7 linked regions of the Homo sapiens genome follow. The protein of the gene in region 1 interacts with the protein of each later gene in a biochemical or structural test. Each region holds a gene or a part of one and is shown in the gene's direction. Other genes may lie near its edges. The genes, in order: PATJ, DLL1, MTMR1, FMNL3, GAGE12J, RSBN1 and XKR7.

What was found.
Region 2: the proteins of PATJ (region 1) and DLL1 interact in a test that uses a peptide from one of them, tested with the Homo sapiens proteins (one large-scale study listed by IntAct).
Region 3: the proteins of PATJ (region 1) and MTMR1 interact in a test that uses a peptide from one of them, tested with the Homo sapiens proteins (one large-scale study listed by IntAct).
Region 4: the proteins of PATJ (region 1) and FMNL3 interact in a test that uses a peptide from one of them, tested with the Homo sapiens proteins (one large-scale study listed by IntAct).
Region 5: the proteins of PATJ (region 1) and GAGE12J interact in a test that uses a peptide from one of them, tested with the Homo sapiens proteins (one large-scale study listed by IntAct).
Region 6: the proteins of PATJ (region 1) and RSBN1 interact in a test that uses a peptide from one of them, tested with the Homo sapiens proteins (one large-scale study listed by IntAct).
Region 7: the proteins of PATJ (region 1) and XKR7 interact in a test that uses a peptide from one of them, tested with the Homo sapiens proteins (one large-scale study listed by IntAct).

Annotation. Positions count from the first base shown.
Region 1 is NC_000001.11:62,119,374-62,123,857, forward strand, and holds part of PATJ (inaD-like protein), read left to right. Parts: intron 1-1,807; coding exon 1,808-1,922; intron 1,923-3,647; coding exon 3,648-3,685; intron 3,686-4,484.
Region 2 is NC_000006.12:170,284,191-170,288,360, reverse strand, and holds part of DLL1 (delta-like protein 1 precursor), read left to right. Parts: coding exon 1-122; intron 123-2,062; coding exon 2,063-2,123; intron 2,124-2,661; coding exon 2,662-2,792; intron 2,793-2,937; coding exon 2,938-3,107; intron 3,108-3,225; coding exon 3,226-3,442; intron 3,443-4,170. UniProt on the Homo sapiens protein: Transmembrane ligand protein of NOTCH1, NOTCH2 and NOTCH3 receptors that binds the extracellular domain (ECD) of Notch receptor in a cis and trans fashion manner.
Region 3 is NC_000023.11:150,727,896-150,732,379, forward strand, and holds part of MTMR1 (phosphatidylinositol-3-phosphate phosphatase MTMR1), read left to right. Parts: intron 1-2,213; coding exon 2,214-2,315; intron 2,316-2,629; coding exon 2,630-2,713; intron 2,714-3,574; coding exon 3,575-3,724; intron 3,725-4,484. UniProt on the Homo sapiens protein: Lipid phosphatase that specifically dephosphorylates the D-3 position of phosphatidylinositol 3-phosphate, generating phosphatidylinositol. Could also dephosphorylate phosphatidylinositol 3,5-bisphosphate to produce phosphatidylinositol 5-phosphate.
Region 4 is NC_000012.12:49,700,652-49,705,135, reverse strand, and holds part of FMNL3 (formin-like protein 3), read left to right. Parts: intron 1-4,484. UniProt on the Homo sapiens protein: Plays a role in the regulation of cell morphology and cytoskeletal organization. Required in the control of cell shape and migration. Required for developmental angiogenesis.
Region 5 is NC_000023.11:49,324,384-49,327,791, forward strand, and holds part of GAGE12J (G antigen 12J), read left to right. Parts: intron 1-2,306; coding exon 2,307-2,432; intron 2,433-3,408.
Region 6 is NC_000001.11:113,805,339-113,809,822, reverse strand, and holds part of RSBN1 (lysine-specific demethylase 9), read left to right. Parts: intron 1-4,484. UniProt on the Homo sapiens protein: Histone demethylase that specifically demethylates dimethylated 'Lys-20' of histone H4 (H4K20me2), thereby modulating chromosome architecture.
Region 7 is NC_000020.11:32,001,282-32,004,634, forward strand, and holds the end of XKR7 (XK-related protein 7), read left to right. Parts: 3' UTR 1-2,106; downstream 2,107-3,353.

The DNA of each region.
Region 1 (4,484 bases):
GTAGGAACACAGATTTCCTTCTGAGCAGTTACAAAATAGGGAGATCAATGCCTTCTTTTGAGCGCTAAGGAGAATAAGCTCTTGACTTAATTCATAGAAAGTGAGTTCATTAAGAGAGAAATAACTTCTAGCTTTGGGGCCACCAAGTGTCTTTTTTTAAAATGACTTTCCCCCAAACCAGGAAGAAATTTCCTTACTCCACAGAGGAAAAAATACTTGCGAGATCTTTTCCTCAGCCAACTAAGGGAACACAGTCAGGCAAAGTGTACTTTTATAAACGTCTTGGGGCCGGGCGTGGTGGCTCACATCTGTAATCCCAGCACTGGGAGTTCGAGGCGGGCAGATCACTTGAGGGCAGGAATTCAAGACCAGCCTGGCCAAAGAGCCTGGTGAAACCCTGTCTCTACTAAAAATACAAAAATTAGCTGGGCATAGTGGTGGGCTCCTGTAACCCCAGCTACTCAGGAGGCTGAGGCAACAGAATCACTTGAACCTGGGAGGCGGAGGTTGCAGTGAGCTGAAATTGCACCACTGCACTACAGCCTGGGTGACAGAGGGAGACTCCTCAAAAATTACAATACAATGCAATAAAGGTCTTGGCAAACACACCTTTCTGAAATTTTTTAAAGGCAAAAGTTATAATATACTGTACTTCCTCAGTTCTGATTAGTTATCTATTATAGTACCATTTACTTAAATCATATCCTTTAAGGAAAAGTATAAAAACACTCCTTTAAATGTATATAGCCACTATGAAGTATACTGAGATCTACAACTTACTTTGAAATGAATTTTTTAAAAAAAGATGAGTGATGAATAGATAAATGGCTATGTGATAAAGGAAATATAGCAAAATACTCATTGTGAAATCTAGGTGCTATTTATATGGATGTCTATTGTATAATTCTTTCAGCTTTTCTATATATTTGAAGGTTTTCATATTTTAGGAATTAAAATATTAAACAACTTTCATCATAGAGTTAAGAAAATGGACCAAATTATAATTTATGAACTGATAACAGTGATCTTAGGCTTAGCTTAAAATTTTGATGCAGAATAATTTGGTAGAAAAAAATATTCATTATTTGCAATGTTTTCGTCTACATAAGAAAGGCCCTTCACTATGTATACAGTTTTTGTTGAACAGCCACTAGCCTTAAAAGACTACACAGTATTAACCTCACATATTCATTTAAATGAATAAAGGGACAGGTAATGGAGATCTAGCAGATTGGACTAAATTATTACTGATTCTAGGAAAATCTTTGAGAAAAAAATGTTATATATCCCTAAAACAAGTCTTTTTCCCTTCAGATTTGGTGCTTTTTTCCCCACAATTGAGGGTTCTATTTTGGCAGGTTTCTGCTAATCAAGGTCTTATTATACTTGTTTTAGCAAAATACATAATACATTTTGGGTAATAAAGTTGACTGTAACCCCAAATGAAACATAGTGCCCATTAGCTGACTATATATACATAAACACTATGTGGCAACCTAGGAAAATGGTTTTGATTTTATGTGGAGCAAGAACAGCTGAAATGATTCTATGGTCTCCACCTTGGTGATTGAAACCATATACAAAAGCACACATAATGGAGAAAGCAATGGAGGAAATGTCTAAATGGGATTGGGTTGAGGTAGTAAGAGAATAGTGTGGGTGATTTTTGTTTTCTTTCCTGGCCTCCTCACGATTTTCTGTTAGATGGTTATGGTGACATCAGTAATTGGCACACTAATGGATAAGTATGCATTTAGGGGGTCAAGTCAGTGTCTGCACACAGGTGACCCCTGGGTCTTTCTTTCAGGGTAGTCAGCAGAGTGCACACAGCAGCTGTCATCCCTCCTTCGCTCCTGTCATCACTGGCCTGCAAAACCTGGTTGGCACAAAAAGAGTTTCAGATCCTTCCCAGAAAAATTCAGGTATTACACGGACACACCCAGAGCAAAACTATCCTGTTACCCAAATTAAAAAAAAAAAATGTGTTTTTTAAAAACCAGTCTTCTTTAATATAAATGTTTTTTAATTTTTTGAGCTTGGCCACATAAGCTGAGCTTTCTGAAAGGCATGTTCTGAAGGTAGGAAAGCCATAGAGATTCCTTCAGTGGTGGCCAGGCATGGTGGCTCACACCTGTAATCCCAGCACTTTGGGACGGCTGTGGCGGGCGGATCACCTGAGGTCAGGAGATCGAGACCATCCTGGCTAACCCCGTGAAACCCCGTCTCTATTAAAATACAAAAAAAAATTAGCCGGGCGTGGTGGCATACGCCTGTAGTCCCAGCTACTCAGGAGGCTGAGGCAGGAGAATTGCTTGAAACTGGCGGGGGTGGTGGAGGTTGCAGTGAGCCAAGATCGTGCCACTGCACTCCAGCCTGGGTGACAGAGCAAGACTCCGTCTCCAGAAAAAAAAAAAGAAATTCCTTCAGTGGCACAACACAAAGCACCTGAAAAACAGAAAAGCAGAAAGCTGGAGTGCATGGTAAAATAAAATTACTTACAAAGAGAAAATTAATAAATTACAGGTCACTGGAGAAAGGTCAGAAGTGTGTATACCTTCTATGGGAAAATTGGGCCAGTTAAAAGAAAAAAAAAAGTGTGTATATCCTTGGGGGCAGGGTGGGACAAGGGGTCCTTTTAAGTCTTTTGTTGAATGGAGGGTTATCTTTGATTAAGGTAGAAAAAAATGTACAATGAAACACAAATGACTCAGCCGGGCCCGGTGGCTCATGCCTGTAATCTTAGCACTTTGGGAGGCCAAGGCAGGCGGATCACCTGAGGTCAGGAGTTTGAGAGCAGCCTGGCCAACATGGAGAAACCTCGCCTGTACTAAAAATACAAAAATTAGCCGGGCATGGTGGCACATGCCTATAATCCCAGCTACTTGGGAGGCTGAGGCAGGAGAATCGCTTGAACCCAAGAGGCAGAGATGGCAGTGAGCTAAGATCGGACCACTGCACTCCAGCCTGGGCGACAGAGTGAGACTCCATCTAAAAAAAAAAAAAAAAAAAAAACCACACACACACACAAAAATGAGTCATCCTCCAAGCATTTACTCACCATGTTCCAGGCAGCTGCTGCTATATAGCCCATCCACTTTTGTCAGACCAAATGGTTATGGCCACATTGATCTCAAACAGAGAGCACTTCTTTAAAATAGAGGACACAGCAGGCCGGGCACGGTGGCTCACGCCTGTAATCCCAACACTTTGGGAGGCCGAGGCAGGTGGATCACTTGAGGTCGAGAGTTTGAGACCAGCCTGGCCAACATGGTGAAACCCCGTCTCTACTAAAAATACAAAAATTAGCCGGGCGTGGTGGCAGGCACCTGTAATCCCAGCTATTTGGAGGCAGAGGCAGAAGAATTGCTTGAATCTGGGAGGCAGAGGTTGCAGTGAGCTGAGATGGTGCCACTGCACTCCAGCCTGGGTGACAAAGCGAGACTCTGTGTCAAAAAAAAAAAAAAGAGGACATGGCCCCTGGTGACTTGGCTACCAGCTTGGATGCTGAGGAAGGGTACAATACCTGCTTGCTTTAGTGTCTTCTCTTGAAAGACCTAGAAAATGAAACCATTTTTCATGGGGCAATATTATATGCTAAATATATTATTTTTTAATATTAAAAAGTTAATTGTGTTGCTTCTTTATAGGCACAGATATGGAACCAAGGACTGTTGAGATAAACAGGGTAAGTCAGTCATTTTGCTGTATGTATTTTTCTGGTTTGTGTTGGATTTGCACTAAATGTACATTTTCCCCAATACAGTTTATTGGATTGTGAGTGTGCTCTTTCAAGTTACTGAGATAAAAATATGGTCTAAATAACATCAATAAATAGACTTAGAAAAGTACAGTAGAGCACAGAGATGACCTCTATGAATTTTTTGGCAAATCTCATCCACTATATTCTGTGCTATGTGTAAGTTTTATTTTTATTTATTTATTTTTTCAATCTTAGTCTTTTAACCTGTACATGTAAAGTTTTATAAAACAAAAATGGTATCATGTGGCACATACTAAATAAGTATTTTTTGAGAGCATATAGTATGATTTTTATCGATTTCATAGTACTCCATCTTATGAATGTGCTATAAGTTTCTTTTTTTTTTTTTTTTTTTTTTTTTTGAGACAGAGTCTTGCTCTGTCACCCAGGCTAGAGTGCACTGGTGCGATCTCGGCTCACTGCAAGCTCCACCTCCTGGGTTCATGCCATTCTCCTGCCTCAGCATCCCGAGTACCTGGGACTACAGGCGCCTGCCACCACGCCCAGCTAATTTTTTGTATTTTTAGTAGAGACGGGTTTTCACCGTGTTAGCCAGGATGGTCTCGATCTCCTGACCTCGTGATCCACCTGCCTTGGCCTCCCAAAGTGCTGGGATTACAGGCGTGAGGCACCGTGCCCGGCCAAATGTGCTATAAGTTTCTTAACCAGTTTCCTATTATTGAACAATTAGCATATTTCTCAATTTTTGCTATCTTTTATAGTA
Region 2 (4,170 bases), on another chromosome or scaffold:
CTACGGAGAGGGCTGCTCCGTTTTCTGCCGTCCCCGGGACGATGCCTTCGGCCACTTCACCTGTGGGGAGCGTGGGGAGAAAGTGTGCAACCCTGGCTGGAAAGGGCCCTACTGCACAGAGCGTGAGTCTCTGGGAAGGCACCGCTGGCTCACTCGTCCACGAACACGGACCGCGCGCAGGGACGGGGCTTCCTGAGCCACGGGGGGCTTGGGACTGTAGAGATGTTCTGGTGGGGAAACTGAGGCCCAGAGGACAGAAGTGGATTGCTATAAGTCACAGCTCGTCAGTGGGGGGGTTGGGGTCAACGCAGACATTTTAACATCCCAGGCTGTGTTTATCCACTATCGGAACTGCCTTTCTTAATCAGGGAGGATTTTAGAGACAGGGCCAGGGGTCAGGAAGTAAAGCCAGTGCTACCCCCAGGGTGTGTGTATTAGAGAGGGAGAGGAGGAAGGAAGGGAGGAACACAGAGAGAGCTTGTGTGTCAGGGGCACCATTTCAACCCGAGTTCCCAGTGCTGGAACAGCATCACACTGGGAAACGTTCCATTTTCTCTCTGGAGCTGGTGTGCTTGACCTCTCTGGAGCAAACGCCTTTCCGGATACTCCCTGTGACACGCACTGTCTATGCTGGCCAGAGAGCAGGCTTTCACTCCTGTGGGCTGCTGAGGCCAGGTCTCCAAGGCCTGTGTGGGCGAGGGGTGCACAGCCCCGTCTGGCTTGAATGCTCAGGCAGCACCTTGTCTGGAGAAGCAATGTCTTCCCAATAGTGACAGAGGCTCTACCTGCCTCTTATTAGGTATTGATGTGTCAATGTCATGGCAGGCAGGTGACTAGGGCAGGGTTGGGGCCGTGCTGGCTCCTGGTTCTGGCTCATGGGGACCTCAGGAGCCCTCTCTCCAGCTGACTGAGGCCTCGCCTGCACGCCTGGCCGTCCCAGCCCATTGGTACCGGATTTCTCTACAGCTGGGGATTGGGTAGGTCCTGGAGCTGCCCAGAAACTCCAGGGAACTGTCATTCTCCTTCCTTGGAACTGGACAACCTTGGAGAGGGGCTCTGGGAGGCCCAGAACCTCTGGCAGGAGCTGGGTAGTGCCTGGGGTTGAGGGTGGGTCTTCCCATTCACTGAGTGCCTTGATGTCCTTGCTCCTTAGCTTCCCAAATTCCCTCCGGAACTTACTGAGCTCCTTCTAAGCTTTGCCTTGGCCTGAACTGGTTCTGGGGAAAAACAAAAAAACAAAAAACAACTTGTGGAGCTGCTTGTTAATGAGTTTCATAACCAGGCAGCAAGAGCCAGCTCCAAGCCTCAAGCCCACTGTCTACTCCCTGCCCTGCGGGAGCCTCTGGCCAGTCTGCTGCCTCCCACCCTTCCTCCCTGCCTCTCTTCACCACAGGGTAGCCAGAAACTTAAACTTTTTTCTTCAAACACTGAAGTCTCTCCCCGCCCCCAGCTCGCGCGTGCCATAGATTAGATCTCTCCGGGGATAGGCGCAGGGACACCCGCCGGCTCCCATTGGCGGAAGGGGTGCGTGTGCGTGTGTGTGTGTGTGTGTGTGTGTACACGCGAGGGGTGTGTGTGAGGAGGTGGGGCCGGGGGCGCGGGGGAGGCCGGCATTGTTGCGCTGGGGCAGCTGCCGTGGAGGACAGACAATGGAGCAGCTGTCCTGCCCTGGCACCCTGCATACCAGCTGTCCACTCTTATCTGCACACACACTTTCTGGGATATTAAGAGGTGGAGCTTTGTGCACAGAATTGGGAAGTGGGGGAGGAGGAGGGGGAAGACTTCTGACCCTCTCTTAGAAGAAAAGGGGATAGGGTGGGGGTGGGGGCTTCCGAGAGCCCTTTTGTCCTTGAGCCCCTGTGTTAAGAAGAATGCTCATCCCCAGGGCTGAGTCAAGTCCCAGGCTACTAGGCAGGGGGGTCAGTCCTCCACAACCTGGGAAGATTAACTCAGCTGGGATTTGCTGACTGAAGCCGGCGAGTTGTGTCCTGGCCCCAAGGGCGGCAGCCCTGTTGGGACGTACTTGGCGTGGGGCTTGACCCTGTTTTTCCTTTGCTTGTAGCGATCTGCCTGCCTGGATGTGATGAGCAGCATGGATTTTGTGACAAACCAGGGGAATGCAAGTAAGTCTGCACAAGGTGGTGTTTTGTTTTGTTGCCTTTTCTTGTTATCTTTTCACAGCTGGTGTATTTGTAAAAACAGCCCTAGGTGATCATTCGAAAAACTCCAGTAAGATTGATTGAACAGGGGGCCGTTTTCTCATGTTTCTACTTAATCAATGTTTGGCAGCATGTAAGGTCATGGAGTTGTCATTCGTCTAAGCCCCTTAACGGCTATGAGAATTTACAGATAGTAGTTTAAAAAGAGTTGGCACAGGAAATGATAGTATAGTTCAATGGTTCTCAAATGTTGCCTCATCCTAGAATCACTCAGGGAGTGATTTTTGAGATGCTGACACTGGTGCTGCCCTAACACCCAAGAAGCCAGAACCTCTGGTGGGGCCCAGGCCCAGGCTGCAGCTCCCAAGGTGACCCAGTGTTCTGCTAATCTGGAGAACCAGAGGCTCACTGGTGCTGCGGGAAGATGGTTTCTAGGGTGAGAATGTCCACTGCAAAGCCAGCAACAGTCAACGTCCATCTGAGTCTTCTGCTTTTCTCCAAGGTGCAGAGTGGGCTGGCAGGGCCGGTACTGTGACGAGTGTATCCGCTATCCAGGCTGTCTCCATGGCACCTGCCAGCAGCCCTGGCAGTGCAACTGCCAGGAAGGCTGGGGGGGCCTTTTCTGCAACCAGGGTAAGCCTTCTCTCCCTGAGGCAGCCTGCTCCCTCCAGAGCAGCCCTGGACTTCCCTGGCTGTTTGATCACTGGAAAAATAAAGTCTTCCTGCATTTGATGTCGAGCTTCCTATCTCCTACTTTTCCTGTCCCCACCCTTCACAGACCTGAACTACTGCACACACCATAAGCCCTGCAAGAATGGAGCCACCTGCACCAACACGGGCCAGGGGAGCTACACTTGCTCTTGCCGGCCTGGGTACACAGGTGCCACCTGCGAGCTGGGGATTGACGAGTGTGACCCCAGCCCTTGTAAGAACGGAGGGAGCTGCACGGTGAGTCGGAGGCTCCATGGCATCTCACCCGGAAGCTGGGGTGCCCTGGTGTTGAATGGAGTGTGTGGGCTCCTTGGAGCAACTTTGGAAAGCCTTTTCTGACCTCTCCATCGTGTAGGATCTCGAGAACAGCTACTCCTGTACCTGCCCACCCGGCTTCTACGGCAAAATCTGTGAATTGAGTGCCATGACCTGTGCGGACGGCCCTTGCTTTAACGGGGGTCGGTGCTCAGACAGCCCCGATGGAGGGTACAGCTGCCGCTGCCCCGTGGGCTACTCCGGCTTCAACTGTGAGAAGAAAATTGACTACTGCAGCTCTTCACCCTGTTCTAATGGTAAGGGGGCAGCTGGTGATTGCTCAGAGACTCGGGCGAGCGGTCAATACTGAGGTGGCATTAAAAACAAGCATTTGTGAGTGACCTCGAGTTTATGAATCACTTTTATCCAGACCGCCAGGAATTCTCGATGGAAACTCTATCTTTGAGTCTGGAAAGGCCTGGGGAATGAGAGAGGCCAGGGCATTTGTTATGAAGTTCTCTGTGGAAACCTAGACCAAGCAGTGAATGACTTGCTCAGGGCCACAAGGTGCTTCGGGCACCTGCGGCCGCCTGAGGTTCAGTAAGTGATGCCCACAGGTGCCGGCCACTCCAGCTTGGGAGGATGGCCCAGCTGTGTGGCCACCCAGCACAGTAGTTGGGGGTGTCCCTGAGTGAGGACAGAGAGCCTCCTGCTAGCAGCGAGGGGCTGGCTGCCCAAAGGAGACACACAGCAAGGAGAGCTGGGCCCCAGATGTGCCGGAGCATTCCGGAATGGTCATCCTTCCCCTCCCTCCCTCCCCTGTTGTCAGTGCCTGCTCCTCTCACTTGCTGTGTAACTGTGGGCAAGGACACCCTCGTTAAGCCTCAGTTTCCCCATCTGAAACCTGGGTCGAGTGGCACATGCTCTTGCCCGGCTGTTGTGGCGACTAATGCAGCCACCAGAGTGTTCTGCACAGCGCCTGTCCAGATGCTGGCCGTGTGGTTTCTGACTTGTAGAGCTAGACCTGGACACCTCTCGTATTTGA
Region 3 (4,484 bases), on another chromosome or scaffold:
CTAGTAACTCAAATGTTTTCGGGATAGCAACCTCTTCAAATCTCATATCGAATTTAAACTATTATGTAACCCTTTGAAGTAAACCTTTTCCATCGAAGTCCAATTGTCCCTTGGTATCGGTGGGGGATTGATTCCAGGACCTCTGCCTCAGATACCCAAATCCATGGATGTCCAAGTCCTTTATGTCAAATGATGTAGTATTTGCATATAACCTAAGAACATTCTCCCATATACTTTAAATCATCTGTATATTGCTTATAATAACTAATACAGTGTAAACACTATGTAAATAGTTGTTATACTGTATTGTTTAGGGAATAATGACAAGAAAAAATGTCTGTGCATGTTCAGCACAAATGCAACCATCCTTTTAAAAAATATTTTCCATCTGCAGTTGTTCGAATCCTCCAATGTGGAACCCATGGATAGGAAGGGCTGACTGTATTTCTAATTAACGTGGACCTATAACCTAAGTGATTGTTTGTCACATCTCAGAGAAGTCAAGTGAAAAGCAGAGACCAATACATTTCCCCAGTTTGTTGTTTTAAGACTACGTTCAGAACAATGTGGATGGTCAGAGACTTCCTAAAGGGACAGCAGTGGCCCATAAATTCTGTGATTAAAAATGAGATTAAGTTTCTTGGCTATCTTGGAATTTTTATGTTGAGCTGGGCTTATTTGTTTATTTTGTACCCTTCTTCTAATAATTTAAGTAGAAATGTGTGTGATAACTTTAATCACGAAGTCATGTAGGACCCACTCCTAATTGATGTATTTTATTCCCAGTGACTTGACTTTGGTAATGTTTACCAAAAACCCTACCTGAAGTACCAGAAAAGAGATCCTGCCTGCAGGATCATCAGCGCCCCTTCCAAATTTTGGGTTAGGATTCCTTACAATCTATTTATTTTGATTCAATCTCTGAAGATAGCTCCCTCTGGTTGGTCCTAGACTGCGTTCAAAACCATTTTTTTTTTTTCCAAAGAACCCTTTACTCTTCCAGATCATGAATCTGTTGGCTTACTAAACTCACTTTAGTCACTCCCTGACAACTGTCCTTCTCAGGCAGGGTTCCCCATATGGAACAATGGCAAGCAGAGGGGTGACTTGATCGGTTCTGCAATTTTGAAACATGTCGTCCCCTTTCTCATGACGCTTGAGTATCTTCCCATTATCCTTAGACTAAAAGAAAAACTCTCCTTACAAGACTGCTCTGCCTGACCCACTTTCCTCTGCAGCTTGGTCTCGAACTGCCCTCCTCTCATTCTGGCCATCCCAGTCACATGGGCTTTCCTTTGGTGGTTCATACTTGACACACCCACCCACACACACACACACACACACACACACATCCCAGAATCTTTGCATGTGCTCTTTCCTTAGCTTGTAAGCAATCTTAAATAGCAAGTCAGCTCAGTCAGCCACCAAGGTGTATGTGTGTAGCCATGTAGCTTAGAGGGAGGGCATGTCAGGAAATTATGTTGCTTAGGCAGGCATCCTGGGGCTCTTTTACTAAGATATTTTTATGGCTGGGGTGAGCATTTGCTAACAACTGCTTTAAATGTTCTCTAACCTAGATTACTAAGGTAATGCTCCCAGCCTTCTCAGATCATGCCTAAGAGCTTTACAAGGTGTGGGGTTTATTTTTTAACAGGTGATATACAATTCAAAAGATACAAAAGCTGTGTATAGTAAAAAATCAGTCTCCTTCCACCCACCACCCTGCCACCCTGTTCCACTCATTTCAGGCACCCACTGTGGCCGATTTCTAATGTAACCCTCCACAGATAGCCTATGCACATGAGAATGTATGTATAGTCCTTCTTTGAAAACATAAGTGGGGCCAGGCGCAGTGGCTCATGCCTGTAATCCCAGCACTTTGGAAGGCCGAGGCAGTTGGATTACGTGAGGTCAGGAGTTTGAGACCAGCCTGACCAACATAGTGAAACCTTGTCTCTACTAAAAATGCAAAAATTAGCCGGTAGTGGTGGTGGGTGCCTGTAATCCCAGCTACTCGGGAGGCTGAGGCAGGAGAATTGCTTGAACCAGGGAGGCGGAGGTTGCAATGAGTGGAGACTGTGCCGTTGGAGCAGGATAAAGTATAAAAGGAGAAATGAATTAAAAAAAAATAATTTCCTTATTTATGGCACGGTATCTGGCTTATAGGTGCCTGATGTATGTTGAATAACCGAGTTTTGCTAATTGTTTAACAGGATATGAGGAACTTGCGGCTTGCTTATAAACAGGAAGAACAGAGTAAACTAGGGATATTTGAAAACCTCAACAAACATGCATTTCCTCTTTCTAACGGACAGGTAAATACACCAGAGTAAACCTTTTCTGCATGCATTTGTGGGGGTCCAAATATCCTATGTTTAATTATTCCTTTTTCCAGAGGTTTTTTTTTTTCCTCTCTTTTTTCCTCTGTTGGTGACTAATATTAGAATATTTGAAATTTGTCAGTTCTGGGTAATGCTTAAGAAAAGCTGCTACTTTGTTGCTGTAAAATTTACAGACTAAAATAGGAATCTTAATACACTCAGCTCATATTAGAATGAAAAGCTTTAATATTGGGTATATGATATAAAAAGAAATAGTAACATATGTGTTTTGTGGTTTTTGTGTCCAGGCACTATTTGCATTCAGCTATAAAGAAAAATTTCCAATTAATGGCTGGAAAGTTTATGATCCAGTATCTGAATATAAGAGACAGGTAAAGTATATTGCTTATCAAACTGAAAATAATAGGTTGAGCATCTTTTTCTCTTCTAAAAGGTTAGAAATGATGTGGTGGAGAAGAAACTTTTTCGAACAAGTTATGCACAGGTTTAACTGCTAGCTTATAGGTTCTCCATCTTTCCTTGATTCTCTCTTCTCCCTGTGCCAAACCTTAGACTTTGTCATGTTTGTTCATCCTGTTTCCAGAGGGTGAGTGGGACTCAAGGACAAGGACGGGTTTAAAAACCAAATTTGCCAGATGGTTTTTATTAGATGTTCTGGTAAAGAATTGATGAGTAAGGATCCAAACCACTGACTACAGTTAGATTCGAAGCATGTGGTGTGACTACATCTGTCTGATCCAGTGTTCCCGGGTCTGGGAACTCTTCAGTGCATTGTCAGCTTCAAATTATTCCACTAAGATCTTATTTTCATGACGTTTGTTTCATGACGTTGTCTCTACCTTATATTTGGTATAATGTTTTACGTTACTTATTTTAGACATTCGTAAGAGGTATCTGTGTTTCTAAAGGACTTTTGAGTATATTCTCAAAAATAACAGAGCTCATTATTTATAGAAAATAGGACAAGAAATATATAGAAATGTGATTCTAGCGTATAATTTTCATGTTTTAGTATGGTTTGGATATTCTTATGCTTCTTTAGATTTTTAGAAATGTCTAGGAAATGGGTTTTACCGAATAAATATATATATTGACTTTTAAGTTACAATAAACAATAAATTATAAACGGATTTTAGTTGCAAATAAGAAATGGATGTACTTCATGCTTAGTACTTTTTCAAAGTGTAAAGTCATGCATTTCACCCTCTTCTTCTTTCTCCAACACCTTACAGGGCTTGCCAAATGAGAGTTGGAAAATATCCAAAATAAACAGTAATTATGAGTTCTGTGACACCTACCCTGCCATCATTGTTGTGCCAACTAGTGTAAAAGATGATGACCTTTCAAAAGTGGCAGCTTTTCGAGCAAAAGGCAGAGTCCCTGTAAGTAATAAACATTGTCATTTATATAGGAATATATATTGCGTTAGATCTAATATGGAGAGATTTAAGACAAAAAAGAAACTAGTGAACAAAAATGGAAAGCAGAAAAATAAGCTTATAAACCTGAACATACCTTTGATTCTCAACAAATACCTAATTATATAAACAATCTGTTTGCTATGACTCCCTCTTTTACGATTTCCTATAACTAAGTATAAGGGGAACTTCAGTCATACCCTCAAAAAGTAGTAGAGAATGACAAAGGAGTAGCAACAACAAGTTATCATGCTATTGTATTACCAGTTGGCATTGCTGGTTTCACTGAATCATCCTAGAGAAAATGCTTCTTTCTTAGATACTGAGCATGATGCCATAGCTGCGTGGGAGGGACATCATTACAGAAGTAGTAGCAGACAGCTGGGAGTAATGGTTTGAGCCCAGAGTTTGCATCTGTTGTAATCCTGAGTCACTTGGCCACTGGAGGAAAATGAGAGGTGGGGTGGCAGAGTGTCAGATTTTATAAGAGACTGTATATTCACTTTGTCCTTACCCTGCCACGTATATTATTGTTGAGATACAAAGATGTTTTTAAAATTAGGAGACAAGGTAAAATTAGTCAATCAAATTGGAATGGGGCTAGATTTTAGTAATAGTTTGATTTAGGATTTGTTTTTCTTAGAATCATAGAATATTGGGGATGGAAGGGGATTTTTAGAGCTCATGTAGTCAGAATTGTTTCATCCTGACCAAAACATTGAGT
Region 4 (4,484 bases), on another chromosome or scaffold:
TCTCAGGAGACGGGATTTCACCTCAGTTTTCCAATACAGGGAAATCATCCCTTCTTGGGGATTTGAGTTCTTCTCTGGGGGCTCTTAAGTGTCCCTGTGTCCACTGTTCTGAAAGGTACCCTTTCTACCATGCTTTGGGAACAGTACTGACTGAGTCAGGTGTTTGACCCAGGTACAGGCTTAGGGGTATTTCCTGAACAGTCAGGAGAAGCATAGTGTAGTAGAAAAATCAAGGACTCTGGCTTAGCAAGTATCTTAACTTCTCTGAGCCTAGACTTCTTCCTCATCTGTAAAATGGAGGTAATCCTGTTCTGGTGAGATTGTGAGAATTAGGTGAGCCCCTGTATATAAGGTGCTTGGCACCCAGTAAGTACTCAATATAGATTATAGATTAGCTTCTTTTTTTTTTTTTTTTTTTTTTTTTTGAGATGGAGTTTGGCTCTGTCATCCAGGCTGGAGTGCGGCAGCACGATCTCAGCTCACTGCAAACTCAGCCTCCCGGGTTCAAGCAGTTCTCCTGCTTCAGCCTCCCCAGTAGCTGGGATTACAGGCGCGTGCCACTAAGCCTGGCTAATTTTTGTGTTTTTAGTAGAGATGGGGTTTCGCCATGTTGGCCAGGCTGGTCTCGAACTCCTGACCTCAGGTGATCCACCCGCCTTGGCCTCCCAAAGTGCTGGGATTACAGGCATGAGCCACTGTGCCTGGCCAGATTAGCTTATTTTTGTTGATGGTGTGAAACAGTCAGATAAACTGTTCCTTTCTCACCTTTTTCTTTCCTAGATTGTCAGCTTCATTATAATTGGTTAGGTTTTTTGAAAAAGCTATTTGGGAGGTTTGTTGAGGTGACATAGTGGTGTCCTGGTTAAGCTTATGGACTTTGAAGTCAGAGTGGATTCAACTGTTTCATCCATAGTCTTTGGTTAGAAGAGTGTTTGACCTCAAGCAAGTTACTTAATCTGATTCCCAGTCTTCTCTTATACATGGGGATAATAATAGCATTTGCCACATGAGGTTGTTGTGTGGATTTAATGAAATTGGAAGTCAAATACTTAGCAGAGTCTGGCATCTACTATATGCTTAGTAAATGGTAGCTTTTAAGTTTGTACCTCTCAGCAGTGACTCAGATCTGAGATCACTTGTGTTCCGAAAAAGGGGTTTTAAAGTTTAGAAATCTGATAAAACCAATTACCCTGTTGTGTATATCCAGTCTCGGAATATGGCTGCTGCTGTAAGCTGGAGGGCTTCCTTAGCCCCAAGTGTGTCTGTGGAAAACCCCCTGAAGAGTATCCTCGCTGGGGAAGTTGTATCAGTGCTGAGTCAAGACCACAGGCTCCCAGCCTTCTGTTCTAGACACATGATCTGTCAGCCAAAGTTGAAGAGCTTGAGATGAGGGCTATGAGAAGATTTGATGAGAACATTGATTCCAAGAATCCTAACCCAGCCCAGTGCCTTAATTCAGGGCTTCCCTACTAGTGTGCTGCAGATGGATCACAGATGTGCTGGAATACTGATCCCCTTATTCCTAGGGGCAGCTAAAGTTCCCAGTCAGTCCCCTCTGGATGGGATCAGCTTCTACCCCATGTACTGTAGAAACAGTAATATTTTCTAGGTGTGCCTCGATGGGAAAAAGGTTGTGAAGCTGCTGTGTTACACTGCTTCTTGGCATCCTTCCTTACCCCCTATCTGAGTAGCACTTCCCATTCTGTTGGGTATTGAGAAGTTTGGGGTTGGGGCAATTAATGGAGCTCCTCTTTATGAATACCAGAATGAGAGCCAATCTCTGGTCTGATACAGTCCCAGTGTGTTTTGGTCCAAACTAGATTACTACCCAAACTCAGTTGCTCAGAAGCTAGTATTCTGGCCAGTACTGGACTTTCCATAGAGAGGGGAGGCAGAGGGCTCTAAGGTCTTTGAAAGGATAGCTGTCTGTCTTTGTTGTGATTGTACTCTGATTTTTCTCTTTGTTGATTTACTACAGACTTGACATGGAGTCTAAAAGTTCTGATGCCAGAAAAAGCCCTGTATATCCCTTAGGAGGAGGCTTTCAGGGCATAAGGGTAGGGTTGTGTGACAGGAGCTATCCCTGCTGCAGTTTCTCCTCTCACATTTCCCTGGTGATGACTGACAACTTGGGGGTTTTTCTGTAAGTGTAGCATTGATGTGGGAGCTAAGCTGGCCTGGGTGCTAGTTGTCTAAGAGGCTTTGAGGGGCCTCCTTTGACACAGAAATGGGCTGGGAAAAACTTGGACTAAATATCAGGTTCCAAATCACCATGGTGGAAATTTTTTTCCCAGCCCTCAGGATTGTGGTGAATTAGTTCAGGCTAGAATAGAACTTGGGAGGGGGCAGGGAAAGGGCCTTTCACAGCAGCTGGTCAGAGGAACCTTCTTCTTGTTCAGAGACCCCACAGAGAAGACCCTAGACCACAGAGAGGAGTCTTATTCCCTTGACCTTCTGATATGACCCTGCCTTAGTCTGGGGGAAGCCTGTGTGTGGTGGGGAAGGGACTGATGGAGTGGACTCTGTCATTTGGGAATGTTTTCATTGCCCAGAGGGAGATTCAGCGTTTTTTTGTTTTGTTTTGTTTTGTTTTCCTCTTAAAGTAATACTTATTCTCTAAAGAAAGTATGGGACAATTCAGAAAGAAGAAAAGACTAAAGATTTAGGTTAAAGAAAAACATCCATATTTTCTCTAGTTTCTTTACCAAATGCAAATATTTTCTTAGTTCCTTTACCAAATGCAGCTGATGTGCTTTAAAACCTTTATATTTTTTTCTCTGCATAGAGTTTTATACAATGTTTTGATATTTGATTTATTTATTTAAGACAGAGTCTCGCTCTGTCACCCATGGTGGAGTGCAGTGACATGATCATGGCTCACTGCACCTCACTGCAGCTTTGAACTCCCAGGCTTGAGTGATCCTCCTGCCTCAGCCTCCTGAGTAGCTAGACCACAGGCGTGCGCCACCATGCCTGGCTAATTTTTTCATTTTTTGTAGAGATGGGGTCTTGCTTTGTTGCCCACATTGGTTTCAAACTCCTAGGCTCAAGTGATTCTCCCACCTCAGTCACCCAAAGTATTGGGATTTTAGGCATGAGCCACCATGCCCTGCCAGTATATATGTTTTTTATCCAGTTTTTTTGTTTGTTTTTTGCTTTTGTTATTTCATTAGTTTTCCCAGGCTAGTAATTGTAAGTGGTTTGTTTTTGTTTTTGAGACAGTCTTACTCTGTCACCCAGGCTGGAATGCAGTGGTACAATCTCTGCTCACTGCAACCTCTGCCTCCTGGGTTCAAGCGATTCTCCTGCCTCGCCTCCCAAATAGCTGGGATGACAGGCGCCTGCCACCACGCCTGGCTAATTTTTGTGTTTTTAGTAGAGACGGGGTTTCACCATGTGTTGGCCAGGCTGGTCTCGAACCCCTGGCCTCAAGTGATCTGCCCACCTCGGCCTCCCAAAGTGCTGGGATTACAGGCAAGAGCCACCAAGCCTGGCCTGTAAACATTTAAATGCTTGTACGATGGTCCATCAAGTGAAGGTACCTTTGTTTGCTTACCCATACACCTTTTCTTAGATATTTAGGTTTTTTGCTTCTGTTTGTCATCATAAACAATGCTGTGATGAACATCTTGGTGTACAAAGTATTTTCAATATTTAGAGTTTTCCTTGGGATAGAAACTCAAAATAGAACTTGCTAGATTGTAGGATATAACTGTTTTTGTTTCCAAATGGTTTTTAAAAGAGGGAATAATGTATGAGAAGGTTTTTAAAAGGATGGAAGAGGATTGAGAATAGCTTCTTTTCTCCTGATTATGAAAATAATAAATATTTATTAGGTAAATTTGGAACTTACTGAAAAGTGTAAAGAAGATAATAAAACCTATAATCTCACCATCTACTATTAACACTTTGATGTACGTGTATATATATTTTTTAACAATTGGGATCATACTGTGTATATTGTTTTGTAAACTGATTTGTTCATTTACTATTTTAAGCATTTTCTCATTTGCTTATATATTATTCAGTATCATTATTTCTTTTTTTTTTTTTTTTTGAGATGGAGTCTCACTCTGTTGCCCGGGCTGGAGTGCAATGGCCCGATCTCGGCTCACTGCAACCTCCATCTCCTGGGTTCAAGCAATTCTCCTGCCTCAGCCTCCCAAGTAGCTGGGATTACAGACGCCCACCACCACGCCTGGCTAATTTTTTTGTATTTTTAGTAGAGATGGGGTTTCACCATGTTGGCCAGGCTGGTCTCAAACTTCTGACCTTAGATCTACCCACCTCGGCCTCCCAAAGTGCTGGGATTACAGGTGTGAGCCACTGCGCCCGGCCCAGTATCATGATTTCATTACTGCATAGTACTCTATAATATTTTATCACTGCCTTATGTTGCCTTTTTTTTTTTTTTTTTTTTTGAGGTGGAGTCTTGCTGTGTCGCCCAGGTTGGAGTGCAATGGTGCGATCTCGGCTCACTGTAA
Region 5 (3,408 bases), on another chromosome or scaffold:
TACGTTTGATAAAAGCTGGATAAATGAGGATACTGCCATACAGGTAGCTGGTTTAGTGATTTTTCTCAGCGGCTTTTAGGAGGTGATTAAATCCTTTTATGGTTAGAAAAGCAAAAACGGAATTATCCTGAGATTAACGTGAGATGGAAATAATTTCTCCGAGATAAAATGTTTTGAAAGGAAGCGTTTATGTAATGGAGGTCATGGATTATTCCAGGGATGCACTGTTAAAAGTTCCTAGAATCTGACTGACAACAATGCCCATTAATTGCTGTCCACCCACTCCCTTATTCTCAGTGCGGGACAGTATATTTTCTGTGATTCACAAACAATGTTATATTTGGTGCTTTGTTCTTCACGGGGTTCATTTATGGAATATTACCTTTAGGACCTTCGGACCTAAATATAACTTTATTTGAACAAAGTGAAGTTTCTCTTTACCCCAATAGGTAATGGGTGTCGTGACTGTAAGATTTTCCATAGTCCTCAAATCCGTCCAGCTAATCAATCCTTCAGAAACTGACATTGTAATTGTAACTGAAATCCTACCCACGTGGTAGACTTCAGATTTCTCAGCTGACGCACACTGCTGTTGGTACTCTAGGGCTGAATATAAGCATTATACATGTCCTGTGGTTTATCCTTAGATTGTCATTTAGGAGAAAGGTCTAAAGCTGGGCTGAATGCCATGCACTCATAGTCCCAGCTACTTGGGAGGCCGAGGTGAGAGGATTGCTTGAGTCCTGGAGTTCAAGCCCAGCCTGGGAAACACAGTGAGACCTCATCGCTAATAAATACATAAATGAATAAATAAATAAATACATAAATAAATTCATTAAATAAGTAAAGTTTTCATGGTATAGGAAAACACAGATGCAAAGTTTTTGTGCCTAGTGGCTGGTAATGTTGCAAACGTAACTCCTTAGTGAACTGTACCACTTAAAAATAGTTAAGATGGTAAATTTTAGGATATCTGTATTTTTTACCACAATTGGAAATTCCTTTCTTCCTAAAGTTCAGTGCAGTTATCATATATTCTTTTAAATTTTTACTGTATGTATCTTCAAGACATAGCATTCATAGAAAATTTGCAAGAATAGTACAATGAACTCATATACTGTTCATCTGGATTCACCAATTGTTAATAGCTTTCGCTTCATCAGTTTCACATCTCTTCCCTCCGTCTCTTACCGTGCTGCCCACACACTCACACACACACACACACACATACATACTGTTATTAATGCTGAATTGTCTCGATAAAGTTTCAGGTATTATGGTCCTTTACCCTATGTACTTGAGGGTGTGTATATCGTCAGAACAAAGAGAAAGTCATTTCTTGGATCATCACTGCACAAAGATGAAAATCAGGAAATTTAACAATGAGAAAATGGAGTCATTTAATACAGAGTGCATACTCAAATTTTGCCAGTTCCCCAGAAAATTTCTTTTTTCCTTTTTTTTTTTCTTTGTGTGAAGACGGAGTCTCTCTCTGTGGGCCAGGTTGGAGTGCAGTAGTGCGATCTCGGCTCACTGCAACCCACACCTCCCAGGTTCTAGGGATTCTCATGCCTCAGCCTCCCGTGTAGCTGGGACTACAGGCGCCGGCCACTGCGGGCTTGAACTTCTGGCCTCACCTGCTCTGCCCACCTTGGCATCCCAAAATGTTTGGATTGCAGGCGTGAGACCCCACGCCCGGCCCAGATAATTTTATTGATAGGATTTCTTTTTCTGATCCAGAGTCCAGTTCAGAATCACACCTTGCATGTGCTTTTCAGGTGTTTTTAGTTTCCTTTAACCTGTAATGTTTCCTTAATTTTTCTTGTCATTCACGATACGGACATTTTTGGAGAGGATAGACCAGTTGGTTTGCAGAATATTCTGCAGTTTGGGCTTTTTCATGTATTTTTAAAAGAGTTTTCTCACTCAGCGTTTATTGGTGGCTACTCATGCCATGTAAGAGTCTAAGCGCTAGGAGTGTAAGTGCTGTGAGAGACGGGATTTGAGCCTTGAGTCATTTAATACGAGAAGGACAATCAGAAGTAGAATAAGAGAGAAGTGCAAAGGAGGCAGCAAAGTTGTCTGAGGGCAGTCTTCGGAAAGGAAGAGGGTAATATTTGGAACACCTTGTTTTCCTGTTTTCTGCTAACGGACTCCTGAAATAATGTTCCTGGGATTCTTATCAACACATTTATTATTATGTTAGCTAAAGCTTTTATATAATAATACCGAGAGCGTGAATATTATTTTCTTATTCATGCGTTATGTTTTACTGCTTAAATTGATACGTATTTTTTATTTTTAAGGGCCGAAGCCTGAAGCTGATAGCCAGGAACAGGGTCACCCACAGACTGGGTGTGAGTGTGAAGATGGTCCTGATGGGCAGGAGATGGACCCGCCAAATCCAGAGGAGGTGAAAACGCCTGAAGAAGGTAGGCAATCCATTAGGCATGCACATTGTAGGGTGTCTGTTTCCACAGTATCATATTGTAAGTCTTACTATGTTTTTGAGACGGAGTCTCGCTCTGAAGACCAGGCTGGAGTGCAGTGGTGCCATCTCGGCTCACTGGAAATTCTGTCTCCAGGGTTCAAGTGATTCTCCTGCCTGAGCCTCTGGCGGAGCCGGGCTTACAGGCGGGCTCCGCCGCGCCCAGCTAATTGTTGTATTTTTAGTAGAGACAGGGTTTCGTTATGTTGCACAGGTTGTTCCCAAACTCCTGACCTCAGGTGATCCACCTGCCTCGACCATTGAAATTGCCGGGATTACAGGCGAGAGCCACCGTGCCCGACCCAGCATTATATTTTTAATAACAGAGAGGTAACAATACTGCGTCTTTAGTAACAGACTTCTTATATAAAGGTTATTTGAAACGTAGTTCAGGCCCCAGCACCCGACTGATAGACTGTCAGATAGGGAAACAAACTGAGTCAAAGCTATGTTGAATTAAAAGTTTTGAGTATAAATCCTTAAACCAGTAGCTCACAATTTTCAGATGCTTTTGTAAAGGTCTGCTTTTAATCAATACATAACACGTTTGTAACACCCATCACTTGGTGTGAAAAATGCTGAAGCACTCATGCGGGTTCTAATACCAGCTCTTACAGCCTTGGCGAGATTCTGAGTGAGTCCTTTCCCTTCTAAACCTATCTTTGGTTCTTATGAAAATAGTGAGTTTAAGTCAGAGACTTTAAAACCATTTTGCATTCCGTTTCTTTCATACTCTGATCCTGTTGCATAGAATGCGTGGGACACAGAGATCATCTGCTTCGCATGGTTTGTTAATCACAAATCATGAAACCCTGGCCCGAGTCATCTGAAAATCTCTGAATTGAGATTTCATTGTCAGTAAGACAGTGAGCGGGCCCTCTGCTTCATCCTAGTTTTTCCGTGTGGAGAGCTGAATACGT
Region 6 (4,484 bases), about 52 Mb from region 1:
TGATTTTATTTAATTCTAATTAATTTATAATTAGTCACATATGGCTAGTGGCTACCACACTGGACAACACCACTCTAAATATCTGTAGTTTGCCAACATGTGAAGAAGAGAAGTGGGTTAAGATAAGCCCATTTAAACATTTTAACTTTTGGCTGAGAGATTGTTGGATTATATACCCAAACTATATTTTGGGTGAAAAAGAATTTTTTGGTCAAATACATTTGAGAAAAACTGTGTACTGTAGCCTTCTACATATGTAACATGAATTGGCAAACTGGCATTTTAAAAGTTTTGAAAACCCTACAGAAAATAAACTGGTTTAACTTTGTTTAATCCAGGCTTTTGCACATAGTTTGACTGATATCTTTTTTGTCCTCTGAACATCTTTATTGTTACAGTGGTATGCAGGAGGCATGCCTCTGGTATTAATCTGAGTTTAAATCATGGCTCTAACACTTACTGTGTGAGCCTGAACAAATTGCTTTACCCTCTCTCAACTGCACTTTTCCTGTCTATAAAATGGGGTTGTGGTATTTCATTTATAAGGAACTTGTGTGGATTAAATAGGGCATTGTGTGAAAGTACTTACAGCAGTGCCTGGCTCATTGTAGGCACTTACTTAAAACCGGCCTTTATTATTTTATTATGCATGGTCCCTAAAACAACTCTAAGATTAATAAGGAGAGTGGGCAGATTCTTGTTACTTACAAAGCTATGTCCTTCCTTCGCTTATCCTCAGATTTTTGGAAACTATTTTAACTGTTTTTTTTTTTTAGATAATTAATGATTCACAGGAAATTGCAAACATAGTCAAGTCCTTACCTTTTACCAGTTTCCCTCAGTGGCTACATCTTACATAACTATTGTATAATATCAACACCAGGAAATTGACATTGGTACAATGTATATGTAGTTATATGCTATTTTATCATATGTAGATTAGTGTAACCACCACTACAATCAAGATACAGAACTGTTCCACCACCACAAACCCTTTACAGCCTTAGGCACTCCCTCTGTCTCTCTACTGTCCCTGTCCTCTGGCAGCCACTAACCTGTTTTGTCATTTTGAGACTATTATATAAGTTGAATCATACAGTATGTGATCTTTGGAGATTGCCCTTTTTCACTCAGTGTGATGTCCCTGAGATCCATCCCTCTTTTTCATTGCCGAATAGTGTTCCATGGTATGGATGTACCATGGTTCACCTATTGAATCATTCCCGTATAAGAAAGGACATTTTGATTATTTCTAGTTTTTGGCTATTATAGATAGAGCTTCTATGAAAATTGGTGTTCAGGTTTTTGTGTGCATGTAACTTTTCATTTCTTTGGTCGTATGGTAAATACAATTAGCCCTCTGTATCCATGGGTTCCACATCAATGGATTCAGCCAACCTGGGATTGAAAATATTTTCAAAAAAACATTGTCTGTACTGGACTTGTGCAGACTTTTTTTTTCTTGTCACTGTTCCCTAAACAATACAGTATAACAATTATTTATATAGCATGTACATTGTATTAGGTATAAATAATCTGGAGATGATTTAAAATATAGGGGAGGATGTGCATAGGTTATAAGCAATTATTATGCCATTTTATATGAAGGACTTGATCATCTTGGATTTTGTTGCCCTGGGAGGCTCTGGAACCAATCCTCCATGGATACCAAGGATGACTATATATATTTATTTTGTTTGTTTGTTTTTTAAGATACTGCCAAAGTATTTTCTGGAGTGTCGGTACCATTTTACATTCCTGTCAGCGGTGTAAGAGAAATCCATTTTCTCCACATTCTTGCCAGTATCTGGTATTGTCACTATTTTTATTTTAGCAATTTTAATAGACGTGTGGTGATACATCATCATGATCTTAATTTGCATTTCCCAAATGGCTAGTGATAATACACATCTTTTCATATCATCATTTGCTGTCTATATATCCTGGTCAGTAAAATGTCTCTTTATACCTTTTGCCTATTTTCTAATTGAATTTTGTGTGTGTGTGTGTGTGTGTGTGTGTATACATATACATATATATATATATATAATTTTTTTTTTTGAGACAGAATTTCACTCTTGTTGCCCAGGCTGGAGAGCAATGGTGCAATCTCGGCTCACTGCAACCTCTGCCTCCCGGGTTCAAGCGATTCTCCTGCCTCAGCCTCCCGAATCGCTGGGATTACAGGTGCCTGCCACCACACCCAGCTACTTTTTTATATTTTTAGTAGAGACGGGGTTTCACTGTGTTGGCCAGGCTGTTCTCGAACTCCTGACCTCAGGTGATCCACCCGCCTCAGCCTCCCAAAGTGCTGGGATTTCAGGCGTGAGCCACTGCGCCCGGCCCTTGAATTGTATATTTTTTATTACTGGGTTTTGATAATTTTTTGTAGATCACAGGTGCAGCTTCTTTGTATGGTTTGCACATATTTTCTCCCAATCTGTTGCTTGTCTTTCCATCCTTTTTGTTTGTTTGCTTGTTTTTATTTTGGTTGTTTTTTTTTTTTTTTGAGATGGATTCTCACTTTGTCACCCAGGCTGGAGTGTAGTAGCACGATCCTGGCTCACTGCAACCTCCACCTCTTGGGTTCAGGCGATTCTCCTATGTCAGCCTCCCGAGTAGCTGTGATTACAGGCATCTGCCACCATGCCCGGCTAATTTTTGTGTTTTTCAGTAGAGACGGGGTTTCGCCATATTGGTCAGGCTGGTCTTGAACTCCTGACCTCAGGTGATCCGCCCGCCTTGGTCTCCCAAAGTGCTGGGATTACAGGCATGAGCCACCACGCCCAGCCTGTTTGTTTTTGTTTTTTTGGGGAGGGTCTCACTCAGTTACCCAGGCTGCAGCACAGTGATGTGATCATGGCTCACTCTAGCCTCAACCTCTGGGGCTCAAGTGATCCTCCCACCTCAACCTCCTGAGTAGCTGAGACCACACGTGTGCACCACCACACCTGGCTAATGTTTTTTTTTTTTTTTTTTTTTTTGATAGAGGCAGGGTCTCTCTGTGTTGTCCAGGCTGGTCTCAAACTCCTGGGCTTAAGTGATCCTCCCGCCTTGGCCTACCAAAGTGTTGGGATTACAGACAGGAGCCACTGTGCCTGGTCCTTTCTACCTTCTCAGTGGGATACTTCACAGAGCAAAAATTTTAAATTTTGTTGATATCCAATTTACTAAGTTTTTTTTTTTCTTTAATGGATCATGTTTTTGGCATCATATCTAACATACCAAGTCCTAGATCCCAAAGATTTTCTCCTTTGTTTTCTTCTAAAAGTTTTATAATTTTAACTTTTGTATTTTAATCTGTCATCCATTTGAGTTAATTTTGTACAGGTGTGAGGTTTAGGTCGCCATTTTTTTTCTTCTTGCCTAAGGATATCCAGTTGCTCTAGCACCTTTTGTTGAAAAGATTAATCTTCCATTGAATTGCTTTTGCACTTTTTTCAAAAATCAGTACAACCTGTAATGTAACAATGATTTTTTTTTTTTTTTTGAGACAGAGTCTCGCTCTGTGCCAGGCTGGAGTGCAGTGGTGTGATCTCAGCTCAGTGCAACCTCCACCTCCTGGGTTCATGGGAATCTTATGCCTCAGCCTCCTGAGTAGCTGGGATTACAGGCGCCCACCACCACACCCAGCTAATTTTGTATTTTTAGTAGAGATGGGGTTTCACCATGTTGGCCAGACTGGTCTCAAACTCCTGACCTCAGGTGATGTGCCTCCCACAAGTGCTGGGATTACAGGCATGAGCCACTGTGCCTGGCCTAACAATGGTTTTTACAATTTAAAATAGTTGGAACGACCTTGTAGCGCATGGAAATCATACGAAATTTAAACTGTGTCCAGAAATAAAGCTTTATTGGAATATAGCTCTGTTCATTCATATATATTGTCTATGGTAGTTTTTGCACTACAGTAGCAGAATACAGTAATTGAGACAGAGACCATAAGACCTGCAAAGCCTGCTGTTCGGCTCTTTAGAGAAGTTTGCCACCCTTGAGTTCACTTAAGAGACATGTTCCTTCCTGCACAGCAGTTCAACAGTATTTAATCTGAATTCATGTGGAGACTAATTACAAATTATTACAATCTCAGACATTTGGAGTTGTTCATAAACAGTTGAAACAAAAATTTAATCTGTAAATGCTAGGGTAAACTTGTTCATCTTTAAAACAGAAAGAAGTGATTTTCAGAGAGATGAAGTGAAATGCTTAAAATTTTTTAGTTGGTGATAGAGCTGAATACAGAACTCAATTTTTTTCCCTCATGGCCCAGTTGACCTCTCTTTCTGCTATGCACACTGGGGTTGATTATTTAACAGAGATATTTAAATGCTGTTTTTATTTCTTATAGGGAATAAGCTTGAGTGTAACTAAACTGGAGGTTACCTATGTGTTTTGAAATCTTAATTTTTTTCTCTCCCTCTTATTGCTCATAAAAACATAGGACAGGCCGGGCGCGGTGGCTCATGCCTGTATTCCCAGACCAA
Region 7 (3,353 bases), on another chromosome or scaffold:
AATAGGGAGTGTTGGGGACTCTGGCAGACAGGAGAGTGAGTGTGTGCCCTGCCTGTAGGTACTAAAATTCAAATGTTTGGGAAACTGCTGGCCACTCATATTTGGCCCACGTGCCACCAGTTTGAGACTTACGGTTCAAAATGTTGAGAAGGTTCTGGAGTGTCCTGCCAAGTGGAAACCCCTCAGCGGAAGTCAGGGACAGAGGCTGTGGCTCCCTCTGAGACTTTGCTAGTCCAACCCTAAATCCCCATCACCTGGCTATCTGAGAACTGAGCCCACTGCCCTCTCAGCTGAAAAGGGAAATCTGGGGGGTCCACAGGGTCCCTGGTTTGGGAATCATCTGATAAGGGCTACAGGCCCCTCCAGTGCCTCATGGGGTTAGAGGCTGCTGGAGTCTTCTCCAGCTTGGGGGCCCCTGGTTAGGAGGAATCTACATTGGGTTGCAGGGGAGTCCAGGTGCAGGATGTGGACTGAAAGCCAGGACCCAAGAGTCCCATTCTGTGCTGGCCCCTGCCACCTTTGGCACCTGTCTCCCTCCCAGTTCAAGCTGTGGTGGGGCCTGCAGTAGAGGTTGGTAGGGGGAGCTGTAGTTTCTATATTAAAGTGCTTTGCAGTGTCTCAATGGAAGGGAACAAGTGGGTGTCAAGCCGCATGGGCAGTAGTAGGGTTGGGGTTTGAGCCCCCTTCCCAACCATAGAGGCTTCTGAGACCTGGGGCTGGGGAGGAAAGGAGCTTCAATGTGCCATTCTGGTTGGGGAGAGGATAGGACATTTCTGGGTCCTTGGCTGCTGCCGGTAGAGGTATGGGGAGGAAAAACTCTAGAGTGGGAGATGTGGAAGTGGAAAAGGAAGGCCCTGTCCAGGCCTGGCCTGGTTTCTGGAGACAGAAAACTCCCCAGGGGACAGAGAGGTTACCCCCTTGTGCTTAGCTTCTGCCACCCTTCCCTTCTCTGGAGGAGAAGGCTGCCCTCTCCTCAGCAACCCTGGCCTTTATTCTATGCATAACCACTGCAAGGGCACCCCTGGCCAGGCTGAATGGGTGGGGGTCCCAGGGCACCTGCAATAATCTCAGAATGGAGGGTATCCTGGGACAAAGAGGGGGTACAGAAGGTGCCAGGGGGGAAAAGGTGATTCCTCCATCTCTCTCTCACCCAAATCCCCCCAGATCGAATCTGACCCTTTTCCCTGGTCTCCATTGTGCTAAACCACCGAACTTGGAGGAGCCTCATATAAACATAGCCCCCAGCCCCACTGGCTTTCCGAACCCATCATGAAATAGCTGGAAGGTATCTGAACCGTTCCCATAGCTCCCTCATTATTTTCTTCCCTGAGGATCCTGTGGTTTAGGAGATTTTTCTCCCAAACCAGCCTCATTTCTTGAAGAAGAATTCATTTTCCCATATTAAATTAACTCAAGCTGAGCTTCTGATTGCAGATAAATGTTTCTAAGGCCTCAAGTCAACTTCTAGGGCTTGAAGGTGGGGGAATATATGTATTTTATTGAGTTGCTTAATACAAAATTCTCAAAAGCACTTGTGGGCACTCATTCCTGCCTTCACAGGCCCTCAGGGTCTGGGACCCCACGTTGGGAATCAATGGTTTAGACATCCAGCATCCTATTTTACTGAAGGGGCAAGCCCAGAGATGGGAGATGGCCAGCCCAAGGTCACACAGCAAGTTGGTGGCAGGGTGAGACCAGAACCCGGTTCTTTTGAGGGTCCCACCAGAATATCCCCAGCCCTGATCCTCCCCTCCATGCCCCTGGAACTCTAGGAATCACTAGCCATGCCTGAGGGGCTAATCTCCCTCTGTCAGCACAATTCCGAGTGATTCTTCCCCTCCCTGTCGTCTCTTCCTCCCTAACGGGCCCTCACCCCTGTCCTCTTCTGTTTCCTTTTCCTGGTCCCACCTCCTGGTATTTACTACATCTGTGCCATCCCTCATCCCCCTGACCCCCATTCACCCTCCGAGCTTCCCCCAGGAGGGGGAGGGGGAGGGGGCCCCGAGCTGGGGCCTCTTTACTGAGACTCTTTTGTACACCACAAACTTTTTGTATATTTTTAATTTTGCTGCGACATGAGATATTAAAAGTCATTTCAGTACGTGCTGCTTGTGTCCTATTGTTTTGGCTGTTCTGGGCCAGGGGAAGGAGATGAGGAAGGAGGGATAGGTAGGGTACCACTTGCCACAATCTCTGTGGCTCAAGAGAGAAAGGCCTTTGGCTGGGAGAGGGTGGGACATTACACAACATCTCCTGTTTATTGGGCAGCATTTCAATCAATCAACCAGAATCCTCAGGCCAAAAGTTCTACAGATTATCTCCAAACTCATTTTACAGATAAAGTGGGTGGGGGGAGATAAAGGGTGGGGATACTTGTCAGAGATCACAGAATGAGTCTATGACAAAATCAGGGCCCAGACTGAAGTTCCTAACTCCACTACAGCCAATACTTATTGAGAACCTACTGGGTGCCAGGCAGTTCTTGGCATAGTGAACAAGAAAGATATAAAACAGGCAAGGTCCCTGCCCTCAAGGAGCTTACATCCTATCCTAGGGGGTATTGCCTCTAAGAGGGCCTCTGTCTCCAGGGCTTCCATCCTAATCCAGTGGTTCTCAAACTTCAAAGTGCATGAGAATCACTTGGAGAAGAGGGGATATGTTTTAAATGCATATTTCTGCCTCCATAATCAGGGAATAGGTAGAACATGCCTGGAAATCTGCATTTTTAAAGTTCTTCAGGTGTGTTTAAAGAACATGCCTGGGAATCCTGCATTCTGGTGCAAGCGGATCTGAGGACCTGGACCTTGCAGATCTTTTCTTTTCTTTTTTTTTTTTTTCCAGAGACGAGTCTCACTCTGTCACCTAGGCTAGATTGCAGTGATGCAATCATAGCTCACTGCAGCCTTGTACTCCTGGGCTCAAGCAATCCTTTCGCCTAAGCCTCCAGAGTAGCTGGGACTGCAGGCACATGCCACCATGCCCAGCTAATTTTTAAAACATTGTTATAGAAATGAGGGTCTCCCTGTGTTGCCCAGGCTGGTCTCGAACTCGTAGTCTCAAGCAATCCTCCAGCCTTGGCCTCCCGAAGTGGTGGGATTACAGATGTGAGCCACTGCACCCAGCCAAGGACCACTACTTTAAAGTACCCTCCATAAACCTGATCATGGCATTTCCTTGCTTTAGAACCTCCCATGGTTCCCCAGTGCCTTCAGGATAAAGGTCAAACTCTTCTGCCAAACTCTGACTTTTGGAAACTGGGCCTAAAACCATCTTGAGTCTCATCTCTGACATAACCCACCTGGCCCCCATAGCCTCTCCATACCACCCATTTTCCTGTTTCCATAAGACTCTCC